Linked DNA regions of Homo sapiens. The protein of the gene in region 3 purifies or fractionates together with the protein of the main gene of each other region. This does not show direct contact. Each region holds a gene or a part of one and is shown on either strand. Other genes may lie near its edges.

Evidence for each region. Proteins that work in one complex are often made in the same cells at the same time.
Region 1: the proteins of ACSL3 (region 3) and SPTLC1 purify together in Homo sapiens (affinity purification with mass spectrometry, with the first as the bait; one large-scale study listed by BioGRID). This does not show direct contact.
Region 2: the proteins of ACSL3 (region 3) and POLD3 purify together in Homo sapiens (tandem affinity purification; one large-scale study listed by IntAct). This does not show direct contact.
Region 4: the proteins of ACSL3 (region 3) and MTHFD1 fractionate together in Homo sapiens (co-fractionation; one large-scale study listed by BioGRID). This does not show direct contact.

What each region holds. Positions count from the first base shown.
Region 1 is NC_000009.12:92,045,914-92,049,413, forward strand, and holds part of SPTLC1 (serine palmitoyltransferase 1), read right to left. Parts: intron 1,796-3,500; coding exon 1,700-1,795; intron 1,356-1,699; coding exon 1,259-1,355; intron 141-1,258; coding exon 86-140; intron 1-85. UniProt on the Homo sapiens protein: Component of the serine palmitoyltransferase multisubunit enzyme (SPT) that catalyzes the initial and rate-limiting step in sphingolipid biosynthesis by condensing L-serine and activated acyl-CoA (most commonly palmitoyl-CoA) to form long-chain bases.
Region 2 is NC_000011.10:74,616,582-74,620,081, reverse strand, and holds part of POLD3 (DNA polymerase delta subunit 3), read right to left. Parts: intron 1,546-3,500; coding exon 1,278-1,545; intron 66-1,277; coding exon 1-65. UniProt on the Homo sapiens protein: Accessory component of both the DNA polymerase delta complex and the DNA polymerase zeta complex.
Region 3 is NC_000002.12:222,859,741-222,863,835, reverse strand, and holds the start of ACSL3 (fatty acid CoA ligase Acsl3), read right to left. Parts: upstream 2,801-4,095; 5' UTR 2,578-2,800; intron 1-2,577. UniProt on the Homo sapiens protein: Acyl-CoA synthetases (ACSL) activates long-chain fatty acids for both synthesis of cellular lipids, and degradation via beta-oxidation.
Region 4 is NC_000014.9:64,422,853-64,426,352, reverse strand, and holds part of MTHFD1 (C-1-tetrahydrofolate synthase, cytoplasmic), read right to left. Parts: intron 1,550-3,500; coding exon 1,422-1,549; intron 624-1,421; coding exon 526-623; intron 335-525; coding exon 161-334; intron 1-160. UniProt on the Homo sapiens protein: Trifunctional enzyme that catalyzes the interconversion of three forms of one-carbon-substituted tetrahydrofolate: (6R)-5,10-methylene-5,6,7,8-tetrahydrofolate, 5,10-methenyltetrahydrofolate and (6S)-10-formyltetrahydrofolate.

The DNA.
Region 1 (3,500 bases), on a different chromosome or scaffold from region 3:
CAAGCCTAGAAATTTAAAACTTTCCATTAGTTGTTAAGTGTGGTGCAGATAAACTTTATGTTGGTTGAAAATATATAAAACTCACCCTTGTAAAGCTTTATGAATTTGTCCGCACTTTTCCTTCAACACTGCAAAAATACCTAGATGAAAAAAATACGTTTGAGAGTCTATTTGAAACTTATGATAGTACTAACCTAAAAATATTTTTGAAGACCCAGATCAAGTTCATCAATTTAAAATGCTACAAATCCTTCTACATACTAACAGAGCCAAGAACCCATACTCCCCTGAAGGCCCAAGCTTTGTCTCTGGTGCGTGCTAACTGGCCCCTTCTCACCTCAGTATCCCACTTTCAACAAACCTGGAATGATGCTTTCAAGAACAATCAATGCCTCTTGTTCTCATCAAGATCCTAATCTGGCTAAGAATCAAAGGGTACAAATTTATTGCTTATTTCTTTATCCTAAACAATTTGGTAAAAAATCAACTATAGTAAAGTAATTTTTACAATCTTTTCTTGATATTTTCCTTTTTTATTCAAGGAAAATCCCAAAACTAAAGTATCTGATCAGAAGGTAGGCGTGCCAGGCCATCTGAGAAGCAAGCATATGAATGAGCACAGAGACACACATTTTCTGGTTCTCTGAATTAGTATCAGTGATGAAGATTCAGAAATACTGTACCGGGTAGGGCCTGCTGCTCCCTTTCCGTTTTAAGCTTTGCAAAGGTGGCACTGTCATAGCCAAAGGCCACATTTTAAATTCTTAGTAGACTTTTTATTTTTCCCACTGAGTAAGTTCTTTGCTGGTAAACCCGGCTTGGCCTCAGTACCAACTGATGATTCAAAGGCTAAAGGTGAAAACTCACAATATTTATAAAATTGCACAGATAAAAAAGCAGCATGCTTCAGCTGATTTCTCAAAAAACTATTAACCAAATAAAGACTGGCTTATTTACACCAATGGAACGTTTAGGCCCAGAACTGGCTGAGAGCCCCTCGTCCTCCCAGCATCTCCACCCACTATCTGAGCTAGCCTTGCTTTGGCTCTGGCTCTGGCCCCAAGCACAGGAGAAAAGCTCTGACCCCAAGTCCTTGGGGCAGGAATAGCTTCTTCACTGCCATTCTTCCTATGAATGCCATATAATGTAACTGCAAACCAGTTTTGTCTGGCAAATAATTTCTCCAGTAAGTAAATCAGTAACACAACTAACGTAACCTGAAATCTCTTTGATTCCTTGGGTTTTTAAAGGGTTATACCTGGATTCTCTTCCATGATGTTGAGGGCCTCAATTGCTGCAGCAGCTAACAGGGGAGGTAACGAAGCTGAAAAGCAGTATCCCTGGCCGGAAAGTCGCTGAGAAGAAACAAATGAAGACATATACACATTCTCTGTCCTTTCTAGGTAAACATTTGAAAGGCACCAGTTCTCTAGAACAACTACTGAACAGTGTGTACATGTGGTGAGGGGGGTAAGATCCAGCCATAAATAAACATTATACGTGTAACAGCAACAAGACTTTTTGTTAAATGTGAGATCATTTCTAAATAGAAATATTTTGAGTGATTCTTTAAAAATTGACATTTAAATAAAAATTGTGTGATAAACTAAGTAAAATTTCGTATTTCAAAATTATATTTTGAGGTGACCAATGGAGAAATTAGTTTCAGTTTTAGCTCCTGTTTTTAAAAAGAACCCACCTGATGGTCAATTACAAAAGACCTGCCACAGCAGAAACCTCCAATAGAAGCAAGTGCATTCTCCATGTTGGCACTGATAAGATCAATATCATCAATCTGCCGGAAAAGGAGGAGTGACAGTTATTCCACAGTTTAAAGAAAAAAAAGGCCAACTTCAAGCCTAGAGACAAAATTTAACAGCATTAAACTGTCTGTTAATATCTGGATTCAAACTACCTATCTACATGAAAATAAAAAATAAACCATATAACATCTATCGCTGAATGAACTGTAGTCTCATGGCCCATCTGAAACTGTCTCATTTTATACATTTTTACCATTTCATTATACATGACAAATTAACTCACAGCAAAGACAAATAAATTATAAGAAAATAAAACCCAAAGCTGTTCGATATTAAAAGTAGTCACAGGTACAAAATAAGACTATTTCCTCGCTAAAACAGTGGTCTAGCTGGCCTTCCTCATGGGATGCACTGAGATAAATAAAAAGTCTATCGAAGTTTTGAGCACTTTATTCTTGTATTCAGTTTGCCTCTCAGCATTTCATAAGTCAATTTATCCAAACGTCATGGCGATGGAATCTTTGACCAACTGGACAGCAGAAGAACCTAATGTGCTCTAAAATGACCTAATGGGCTTTGAGTCCTACATCTTTCTGACCACTCAGAACTCCTTCGGTCCTCATCTTTGGGTCCAGCCCTCAGCACCAAGTTCCATTCTGGGCACACAGTAGGCATTCAATCATTACTTACTGATGGCCATGTTAATGGATTGTCAGAACACAGCTAGTGTTTTCCTTAGTGTTTCATAGATCCAGCAGAGTTTTGAGAAACTCTGCACTCCTGCCCTTTTTAAAAAGCATGTTTAAACCTTTCATTATGAAAAATTTCAAGCCTGAACAAAGTAGAACAGAACAAAGAATCCCCATCACCCAGATTCAAACATTATCAACTCAAGGACAACCTTGCTTCACCTATATCCCCTACCACCCTCATCATTTCTTTGTAGTGAGTCCCAGACTTCATGGGGTTTCATCTATAAACATTGCACTGTGTATTTCTAAAAGATAAAAACTCTCTCAAAACATAATCACAAAACTAGTATCATACTTAAGACATTAACAATTTTTAAATGTTAAGTTTAAATTTGATGTTAAATATATTCAAATATTCAGTGTTCAGATATCTCTGATTGTCTCACCAAATTTTCTTTTAACAGCATTTGTTTGAATCAGGATCCAAATAAAGCCCGTACATTCTGCTCTCTACTCTCAGGCGCTTGTGAGTATTTCCTCACAGTATTTCCCAAAGTGACAACTGCTGGAAGCATTCACAAAACTACAACAGTGAAGTTCAAGTTTTTTCCTCCATAAAAATTTTCATGCCTTAAAAAAGGCTGTAGTGTACTGCTAAATCTGCTTGAATTACACTTCCATTTATCTTTCCATTTATTCCATTTACCTCCTCGGTGCATGTAACTGCTGAATGTCAGTCTGCCTTGGAGGAGGTGCTTCCATCCAACCTCCCGGGATATTCACTCTGCTTTACATTTTTCTCTGGGACTATATGGTTAGCGGGATGTCGATAATGTAAGGCAATTTTACGTTTTATAGTTCAACTCTGTAACACAGGTTGCACAGCTCTTATGCGCATGTTTTGGAGAAAAAGCTTTCTGTAACTCTTCCCATGGTGGTTGGTAAGACAGCTGTTCAAGACTGGCTGACTTCCTCTGCCCTGAGGCTCCAGGAGCAAAACCCACTAGGCACTGCGGGCAGTCTGGGTCCATTTCCCTCAGAAAAG
Region 2 (3,500 bases), on a different chromosome or scaffold from region 3:
GCTTTTCCAAAAAAGTTGCTCATCATATTCCCTTTCCCTGGTGCCTTGTTGCCTGCTGCAGATGCCTACAAGCACAGAAAACACATATGATTTTTTGCTGGCATTTAGGCTGTTCATGAAGTAGCAGTCTCAAACAAACTCTTCTATAGCAAACTGTTGCGATGGTATAGTCTCTATATAATCATGCCAAAACGCGTAGGTGTTAGATATAAGAACAAATCTAGAACAATAATCCACACCAGACAGTAACTGGTGTTAATCTCTAAAGCTTAGTTTCTTATATATCTTATAAAATTAATTATCCATGGATATAGCTAAACTTTTCTTGAGCACATTTAAAAACTATTTAATTTGACAGAATTAAAAAAGATCAGAGGCAGTATGTACACAAAGCGGGAAAACCTAAAACATTACATTTTTAATCATCAGAAGTAGATCTGAATTCCTGGTTCCCACCATTTAGTAGCAATATGGGCTCCAGGCAAATTACTTAAGTCTAGGTTTCAGTTTTACCATATGCGAAAGGGAAATAGTTAATATCTCCCTCACAGAACTGATAAGAGGATTTAAACAAAGACACTGGCACACAGTTGAAATTCAATAAACGTTAGTGTTTTCCTCCATCCTTCTTCTTTCCCAAGACAGACGCTTGAAAATGACAGTGATCTGAATTAAATACACTTGACACTGGAAAATGACAGTGATAATAATAATAGTAACAACAATAATTATGCTTTTCTGGATTTTTAAAATAGTATCTTAATGATACTTTTCTTAAGTCAATGCCCTTGAGTTAGTTCAGATGACTGAACAATAAAAATCTAAGAGAAGCAAATAAGGCAAAAACAAAACAAAAAAACCTGCATAAAGTATAAGAATGGGAAATACACTAGGAAGGAAGGTATATGTTGCAAAGCCCAGAATATAAGATGTTCCTCAGAAAGACATATTGCAAATAAACATTTTTTTGAATGTCAACAATTCTCGAGGTGTTTTCACATGTTTTCATCTGGGTTTCACAACAATCTTGTAATGTGCACAAGGTAGGCATTACCATTTTGCAAAGGAAATCCAAGGTTTGGTGAGAATCATTATCAAAAGCAAAAGAACTCTTTCAGATAACAATATCAAGTATTAAAGGGTTCAAACTAAAGTAGAAAAATCAGAACTGAATATCAGAATCTTATATAAATAAACTACTACCACTGCAACCATTAATGCTTTTCTAGTTACCCACTCTGAGCTGCAATGAAGGGGTATCTTCAAAGAAGACTTACATTTGTTACTTCTTTAGCCTCTGTTTTCGTTTCCTTGTTGGTTTCTTGGGTTTTAGCAGCAGCTTTGGAGGCAAACATTCCCATAATTCCTTTGGGCTGCTGGGAAACCTGCTTGGATGCAGGTGGGCCATGACCATTGGTGGTCAGCTCATTGTTGGCTTGTGTCTCACTTGACATGTGAAGATGTGACTGCTCAAACTTTTTGGAAGACGAAGAGGATTCAGCAGGAGCTCTAGGGACGGCAGCTGCACATTGTATAGCACTAAATCTGGGGACAGAAATGTTACATTAAGTTAATGTCAGCATATGCATTCTTGGGTGGTTCAACAAAAAAAGAAAAAAAAAACTAATGTCAGTATAAAACTTTATTTTCAAACTCTTGCTTCTTCCACACAATACTTAACTCTAATATTGTTTAGAATCGACTTTAGAAAAATGTATGAAACTCTCTATTACATAAAGAAACAAATATTAGAGAGAAGTGAGTCACTTTTACTAGGTTATACATCTAGTTAGTAATAGATAGGATTGGAATTAGGTGCCTTCTACCACTAATTGAATATTCTTGTTTTTGATAAAAGTATTCTAATTCAAAAGAGTAGGAATGCAACCAACAATAATAAAAGATGCAGTAATTTCATTATCCTTGGGAAATGAAATAGCCTTTGTTTTTAAAGACCTTCCTCTGATAGGGCTAGATTTGCAATATTGACTGAATCAAAACTAAGCTTTAAATATTAACAAATTTCCTGGCAACTCTCTTGGCCAGAGTAAATCATGCTGTAGGGTTGGGCGCATTGGCTCACGCTTGTAATCCCAGCGGTTTGGGAACCTGAGGCGGGCGGATCGCTTAAGCCTAGGAATTTAAGATGGGCCTGGGCAACATGGTGAAACCTTGTCTCTACAAAAAATACAAAAATTAGTTGGGTGTAGTGGCGCATGCCTATAGCCCTGATTACTCAGGAGGCTGAGGTAGGAGGATCACCTGAATCCAGGAGGTCAAGGCTGCAGTGAGCCATGAGCTCATCACTCAACTCCAGCCTAGGAACAGAGTGAGATGCTGTCTCAAAATAAATAAATAAATCATGCTTTAAAACAAAGAAGAGGCCAGGTGCAGTGGCTCACGCCTGTAATCCCAGCACTTTGGGAGGCCAAGGCAGGTGGATCATGAGGTCAGGAGTTCAAGACCAGCCTGGCCAACATGGTGAAACCCCGTCTCTACTGAAAATACAAAAATTAGCTGGGCGTGGTGGCACGCGCCTGTAGTCCCAGCTACTCAGGAGGCTGAGGCAAGAGAATTGCTTGAACCCAGGAGGCAGAGGTTGCAGTGAGCCAAGATCACACTACTGCGCTCCAGCCTAGGCGACACAGCAATACTCTGTCTCAAAATGAAAAACAAAAAAAAATGGGAGAAGCTGGAAGCAGAGCCACTGGCTCCTATAACCTATAGTCCTTTACAGCCATTTGTTAATAATTTCTAATAATACTAACAGCACCGGACAAGTAAGTATGCCCAAGGCCAAGAGAAGAAAATTGGTGGAACAGCTTGTGTGGCATATTAAAGGGAACATACATCTCTCTCTAATCATTATAGAAGTGCCGTTTCACACAAATCCATAATGTAACATTCCACATTGTGAATGGGTAATTGATTTAGCCTTCTCAAAGGATTGTACTTAAAGCAAAGTTCCCCAGCTTTTTCTAACAAAGAAAAATATTTTATTTTTCCCAGTCTTGCTTATTGAGCATATGTAAGACCTCCTTGAAGTCTTATTTATCTTTTTTATTTCAGGCACCCAGCTCAAGACCTGGCACATAGAAAAGTGCTGGAAACGACATGTTGAAAGAATGACTAAGTGAATGAAAGTGAGGCTTCTGGCTTCTCTCCCTTCTTTAGTGTATCACCTTCAACTTGGGGTGGGAGATTTCTAAACTATGTGGTGATGGCAATTATCTTAAAAGATCAACCAGGCACAACTTCAAGATTAACTGCTAGAATACCTGGCCTAATGAAAAAAAAAAATCCCTGATACATCATTTCATCTCAGAAGTAACTTTAGACTGGGCAGCCCCAAAGCTAGAGTCAAAAGCTCCAAAAATCTTCCACTGATTTATTATGGTCTTCATCAGAAAACTCTGTATTTACACACATCTTTTATGCATCAGAGTTAAGAACAGACGGAAATCATTTGCTTTCACCCACTGCTCTTCCTCTCTGACCTT
Region 3 (4,095 bases):
TGCAATGTATTATTTGAATTGGCTTCATACATGTTCAACTGAGACATTTATATATTTTTAACAATCTATATTTCCCAATCCAGCCATCAAAAAATGATCTCCTAAGATGATGAGACTTTTAAGTTAAATGACCCTGTGAAGCGTATGCTACAATGGATACTTTTGAGTCATTATGATGCTCGTTGTTTTAAAAGCCTATCACCCTTGGCCTAGCTTTCCTAAAAAAAATCTAAATCCAATATTCAAGCCCAAATCTCACATAAAAGAGTCTTACTCCCCCTTACAGTTCATTTTGAGTGGGAGAAAGTATTAGAGGACTATTTAAGCTTTAAGTACCCTGAAGGCAGACAGAATGACAACTTGTAAAGTTGCCTATCTCATTTTCGTATCTTGCAATGAGAGCCGGGATGACATTCTGAGTATGAAATACACTGTGCAATGAAAAGAATTATTGTTGCTGACAACTTCCCAAACTCTTGCATTATGTACATAATTGCAGGCTCAGATTTCAAGACTGTCCTCTAGCAAAATCTCACCACATCAATTCAAAAAACAGCTCCCTAGACTAGATTTCCATCTACATCACAATCTTGCTCATAATCCTCATTCACACAATACTTTTCCTTCATCGTACCTATCAAACTTGCAACCACCTATCCGTTTGTATGACCATTTGCTTCTTGTCTATTTTTCCCTCTATTCACAGCTGTATTCCCAGCACCTAATAAGGTGCCTGACATATCACAAAAATTAAATGGCTCTAGGTGAGTCAATTAATCAAATGAGGAATGAAACAGTCACTTAACTGGAACCAAACAGCAGGGAAACACAAAAGCAAATGAAACAGACCTCGAGGCTTTAAGATCTGATTCTCACCCCAAACCAGACAGAGGATGATTTTCCCCTTATAATTTGTGCGTTCTTCATTTCTCCCATTCTTCCTTTCTTCCTTCAAGGAGAACATTTTAGACCCTCAGAATATTTAAGCTTTAAGTCACTGAGTCTAAAGCCTTACAAATTCAGTAACTGAGATCCAAAGATACGAGGTGACTTGTCACCTTGACCCTTAGGTCCAATGGACCACTCTGCCCCACACCCAATGTCATCCTACAAAACCAATATTTTTATACAAAAGAGAAACCAGGAAAAGTCTAGAGAGAAAACGCATGCGACAATTAGAAGGCTTACTCATCCCCAAGTGTGAGGAACTGCCCAGAAAAATGCCAGAAAACAAAATCAAGTCTGTGCAAAAGATTCCCATGTCACACCACCTGTCCCCTATAATACCCTTCTAATACACTTTCAGGAGCAACTCATCAGCACCCTTAACTCTCAGAACTAATTTGGGGAAACAAAATAGGTTGATAAACATGAAAGAAGGTATCATCAAACTACAACTCTCCTGGCCACCCAGACTAAAATCCACTGTGGAAACTATTCAGCCAGCCACCAAGGAGAGGCAGCAAAATATAGTGCTTAGATTTCAGAGCTCTGGATTTACACAGGCCTGTCTGAATCCCAGCTTCTTACTAGCTGAGATCTGAGGCAAGCTAAGTCGTCCAATCTGCAGTTTCTCCCGCTGTAAAATGGGAATAACCCCCACCCCAGAGGACTGTTAACAGTGTGAAGACACTGTACATAAAGCTCTCCAAACAGTGCGTGGCATGTAATAAAAGCTCAATAAATGTCAGCTATTTGTCATTCTTTTCAGCTATAATTTCGTTCACAAAGCCTACTGCCTTTCTAGCTTCCATATAATTTTAAAGACATTCCTCCAGCCTTTTCATTTTCGAGGGATCTTTTATACAGCAGCTTAGAGCACACTTTCTAGTATCAGACTTCCTGCGAAAACCATTTGAAAACCTGTGCCTCGGGCTCCTCATCTGTGAAACGAGCCTGATAACACCTACCCCACAGGACTGCTGGTAGTAAGCAGTCCCCGAGTTACCCAACCTATCAACAGTATATGATTAAAACGCACTTGGGGAAAAGCAAAGCTGCAACTCTCAAACCCCAAACGACAGTCTTAATCCCAGTCCCACCACCACGATAGTGCCCAGAACCAATCACCAAGGTCGACCCACCTCACGCACCTAGTTTCTTCTCACCCCACGCAGCAACAGCCCCTCCCGCCCCGCCAAACAAGGGTTTTCCGAAATCGCAGGGCTGAGTCTCCTTCCACGGACACCGCACTGCTGGGGCCGCGGCAGAGCCCTCTTAATTCAAGGGGGTGGCCTCCCCACCCCGCCCCACAGCGCCGGGAGGCACGCAGTGCATCCTCCCTGCCTGGTCAGCGCCGCCCCACGCCGTTCGCGCTGCAGCTCCCGGCTCGCGTGGGCTCAGGGCCGAGGCCCCACGTCAGCCGCTTCCCGGACCCCAGCGGGCCGCCTCCCACCCTGCTCGCCGCTGCTCCTGGTGCCGCGGGCCGCCCGCGCGCACACCCAGCGGTCAGGTGCGGCGCCGACGACAGGGTCCCAGGCCCCGAGGCTGGGGAGCCCCTCGGGCCCAGCCGAACCGCACGCGGAGGCCGCGCCGCCAACCGGCTCCCGCCGCTCCCACAACCGGCGCCGCACTCACCGCTACGCCGGAGTCCGGGTTCCTCCGGCCTCGGGCCCGCGCAGGCCTGGCTGAGCCCCAGAGCGTTCACGCCCCGCGCCGCCGCCCGGGGATCCTGGCGCAGCTGTCGGGGCCGCAATGCGAGGGGACGAACGTATGCGACCCCGTCCAACGCCTCCTCGTCCCGGCCCCGGCCGCGTAGACAACTGCAGTGTCGCAGCCCGGCGCAGCCACAGCAGCGTCTGTTGAGCGGAACCGCCTGGGACGCTCACCCCCGGCCGGCACTCGTTGCCTATGCAGAGAGGCTGCCACCCATTGGCCCGCGAGCGGTGGCGCGTGCGGGGCTGGGCCTATCGAATTCGGGCCGGGGAGCGCGGCGCTGGCGGCCCGGGGCGGGGCGAGGTTACTACGGGTCATTCCGCGGAGCCGCCGCGGACCGGACCTGGCTGCAGTCTGCGCGGGGCGGGGGCGGGAACGGGGTCGACCAGGAGGGACGGACCGCGGGTGGGGGAGGGGAGCGGGGATCTGCGGCAGCGACGTGGGAGGAGCGGCTAGCCCAATAGGGTCTGCAGGAGCTCCGTCCCTCCAGGAAAAAACACCCCTCCACCAAAAAAAAAAAAAAAAAAATTACAGTCGCACAATTATTGCTGTAATGTATAAATTTCAATATAAATTATGAAATAGTATGCATATTCTTTTTCGTTTTTAACTGGATTAGTTATCCCGTTCTTGCAGAAATTGCTGTCAAATCCTGCCAAATAAAATGGCTTTTGGAACTGCCTGGGGCAAGAAGAGCCTCAAAAACTCAAAGCTTATCCATTATCATTTCTCTTGTTTTGGCCTCACTTGACCTAGCATATAACCCGTTTTCCTCTAAATGCACTCACCATGCAAATTTGCTATTTCTTTTCAAAAAATAAAGTTTACTCCAAATTATTGTTTTTGAACGTTCTTAGGAATCCACAGTGGTTCTGTATTTTAAGGAGTTTGCCATTGTTTCTCGTTTTAGACACTAAACAAGGATAAGAAAGAAAGCATCCAGTGCAGGTAGTAGAACTACATGTACTGTAAGAGAGAAGATTTTCACTCACCCAGTACTAGTAGGATTGGTCTCTTTTTTTAACCCAACATATTGTTTAGTTTGCCTGTGAACTTTTCCTTAAGTAGGTGAAAGGTTGCCTTCCTGAGCCAGCCTCAGGCTAAAGCAGGCCTCATTTCCCAAGAGAATCAAAATCAGGAAGCCGCCAGAACTTGAACTAGGTGGAGCGATGATGCACCAAGCAAAGAGAGCTCACTCACCGTGGGCCAAGGGCCAATCGAGAACCTAAAGGGATGGATACCTGACTCAGGCAAACTGTTCTCCCACTTCAAAATATGGCAGTTCAGTTGCTCATTAATCTGTTGAAATCTTATCAAAGGATACATCCTGAAGATAAATGGAATGCAGAATTTCTTATCTGAAAAGACATTCGCAGCTCTGCAGAGAGAAGCAGGCTTTAGAAGTAGTACTTCTAGAACCATGAAATCCTCTGGAAAATA
Region 4 (3,500 bases), on a different chromosome or scaffold from region 3:
CTCTCAGGATTGCTGTAAGGATCAAATGAGATCAAATACGGGTGAAAATGCTAAAATCAAATTAAAGGCACCTCTACATACATGTGCCAAGTGCAAATGCAACGCCTTAGTATCAGGACTGATACTAAGATTTGGATGGCAACATGAATAAAAAGCATACCCAGTCACCACCACGTATTTCCCATCAGGCCGGTGCTTCAGGCGTTCTAGTGCTGACAGCAGAACTTTGGCCTTTGTTTCACCATATAATTCTACCTCTTCAGACAGCAGACCAATTTCTCGAGCCAGCTTACCAATGGGCTTCGGTTTACAAGATCGTGATATATCAATGTCACTTTGGAAACATAGAAAATAGGTATTAATGTTTATCCACTGAGTTTAATTAATCCCACAGTAGTAACAAGCCCCCAACCCAACCCCAACCACTGAAGGCACCTTCAGAGGGAGCATATGTGAACCCACAGTATCTGTCAACTAAAAACCAACAATTCACAAAGTTTTAAATCAGTAAAACTTTATTTTTACCTTGGAACAGGTGTCTTGAGGTTAAGGTTGTTATACTGAATCATCCACTTTCCTGGCTTAAATTTCTCCAGGAAACGCTTGGCACTCTCTACTGTGCTCTAAGCAAAATGAAATAAATGAAACTTAGAAGAGGTGGTTATTTTAATCCTCACCTCAGTTTCAAGCTCCAGGTCACTCCAGTTCAATCACAAAATGAACTGCTTCAGACCCACTTATTACCATGCTTCAATCCTAGCTAAGAGTCAAGAGGCACCTAACATGCTTTGGGGCTGCTCGCCTGGCCCCTGTCAGCTGGTGCATGTTAGAAAGGGAAAACAGGCCGGGCACGGTGGCTCACACCTCTAATCCCAGCACTTTGGAAGGCCAAGGTGGGCGGATCACCTGAGGTCGGGAGTTCCAGACCAGCCTAACCAACGTGGAGAAACCTGTCTCTACTAAAAATACAAAATTCGCCGGGCGTGGTGGTGCACACCTGTAATCCCAGCTACTCAGGAGGCTGAGGCAGGAGAATCACTTGAATCAGGGAGATGGAGGTTGCGGTAAGCCAAGATCACACCATTGCACTCCAGCCTGGGCAGCAAGAGCAAAACTCCGTCTCAAAAAAAAAAAAAAAAAAAGAAAGGGAAGGCAAACCAAAACAGACCTGGCCAAGCCAGTGTGATCGCACTTTTCTTCTTTCAAAGTTATTATATTCCAAAACAGACTGGAATTATGCCATCCCTACTTTCCTCTATTAATGTGCCTGATCTTATTTCTCTATTCTTCCCTTCCCTTTTTCTCAATAAATTCACATCTTTACTTCTGAGTAGGTTTTTGACATTTCTACTTGGGGAGAAAAGCAGCCAAAACTCGATCAGCTTTTCAGAACTCTTATAGAAACTTTTATTCACAATTACCTGCATGAGCATTGCAACTGTCATGGGCCCTACGCCGCCAGGAACAGGAGTGATGAAGCTCGCCCTCTCTTTGGCCTCGTCGTATGCCACATCACCCACAACTTTTCTCCCATTTGGTTTTTTATCATCTGGTCAAGTGGGGGAGAAATCAAAACTAAGTCTCAGAATCACAGTCCTGGTGATCAGTTACGACAAAAACTCAGCAGAATTGTAGGGTGTGTTAGTCCCATCAGGCTCCAGTGCCTACTTAACTTAAAAGCTATGGAATGACAGATGTTTGCTATTTCTTAGGGAGAAAATTATTTTACCTGCAAAAATTCACAAGATGCATAAGTGGTTTTACAGAACCTGGAGAATCCTTTTGTAGTCTCTCAGGTGGCAAATAAAATACCAACTGTTTTTTATTCTTAAAACCAACTACCCAGTATATAATGAGCACCCATTTTAAAATGTTAATTTGCTAAAGCCTACAAAGGAAATTTTTTGGGTGCACAAAGATCCAACTCTGTCACAGCTGCCAGATATCGTTTCTACAGCAACTGTCAGCATTTTGTGAGCTCCATGTGTGAGCTGGAGGAACAATTCAACATCCAATTCCAAAGACACAGCTACTTAAATGTATGCTAAAGGCAAAGAATATAATTACACTTCCCTTAAAAGGACACAAGAACAACTACAAATCTTACCAGCAAAGAATAGCTATTCAAGAGAACAAAACCCAATGATGCATCATTGCTCACTCACACAAAGAACATCCTACACTTGGCTTCAGTGCACTTCCAGGAGGGGCTGGGGGCGGGCCTAGACCTCGAAGCAATAAGGCTCCCGCGCTGCATCTGGTAGTTTTAGCGACATCACCACTTCTCTCTGATCAGATCGCCACAACTGAGAAGAAGCTCCAAGGTGGAGGCAAGAAGCCAGAATTAAGAGATTAGCAGGCACTTTGGGAGGCCGAGGCGGGCGGATCACCAGATCAGGAGATCAAGACCATCCTGGCTAACACAGTGAAACCCCGTCTCTGCTAAAAATACAAAAAAATTAGCTGGGCATGGTGGCGGGCACCTGTAGTCCCAGCTACTTGGGAGGCTGAGGCAGGAGAATGGCATGAACCCGGGGGGCGGAGCTTGCAGTGAGCGGAGATTGCGTCACTGCACTCCAGCCTGGGCAACAGAGCGAGACTCTGTCTCAGAAAAAAAAGAGATTAGCTGTAGCATCAGCTCTTTTATTAAAAATTAGGGCCAGGTGTGGTGGCTCACACCTGTAATGCCAGCACTTTGGGAGGCCAAGGCGGGTGGATCACCTGAGGTCAGGAGTCCGAGACCAGCCTGGCCAGCATGGTGAAACCCCGTCTCTACTAAAAATATTAAAAAATCAGCTGGGCTTGGTAGCGGGCACCTGTAATCCCAGCTGCTCAGAGGCTGAGGCAGGAGACTCACTTGAACCCGGGAGGCGGAGGCTGCAGTGAGCATTCCACTCCAGCCTGGGCAACAAGAGCGAAACTCCGTCTCAAAAAAAAAAGTTAGTTCTGCAGCTCCTGTGGGCTCCATATTAATCTGAAGTCCAAAATGCAAAGAAGGCTTAACACTACCTATCACAAATTTGCTGAGGGCAAAATGAGAAAATGTGTACATTACTGAAATTGAAAAAGCAGCCTCCAAACGCAAGAGTTTCTCTTTCCACCACAGATACGTAAGATATTTTTTATATGGAGTAAAAGGAGCTGGTCAACACAACTCATTGGGATGGTTTCAAGTTTCTAGAAGATTATAAAGCAGCAAACTGGCAGAACATTTCCTCTTACAGCCCCTAGAGTCATTTCAAAATGCCAAGGAAATATAGATAGAGGTTTGCCCTCTGTACAAGTTTCAATCGTCTTCACACTGTAGTTAGCTTGAAATACCCGCTGCATCTATTTCTACGTGTTAATGTTAGTCATTTTCGTTTTCCCACAGGTAAGAGACACATATCTTTGACTACATGACTAAACGCAGCACTGGTGAGTTCAGTTTTGCTCCTAAACCAAATACTGTCAGGGTTGACGAGACACTGCTAAACATGCAGTGCTTCGTGGATAGGATG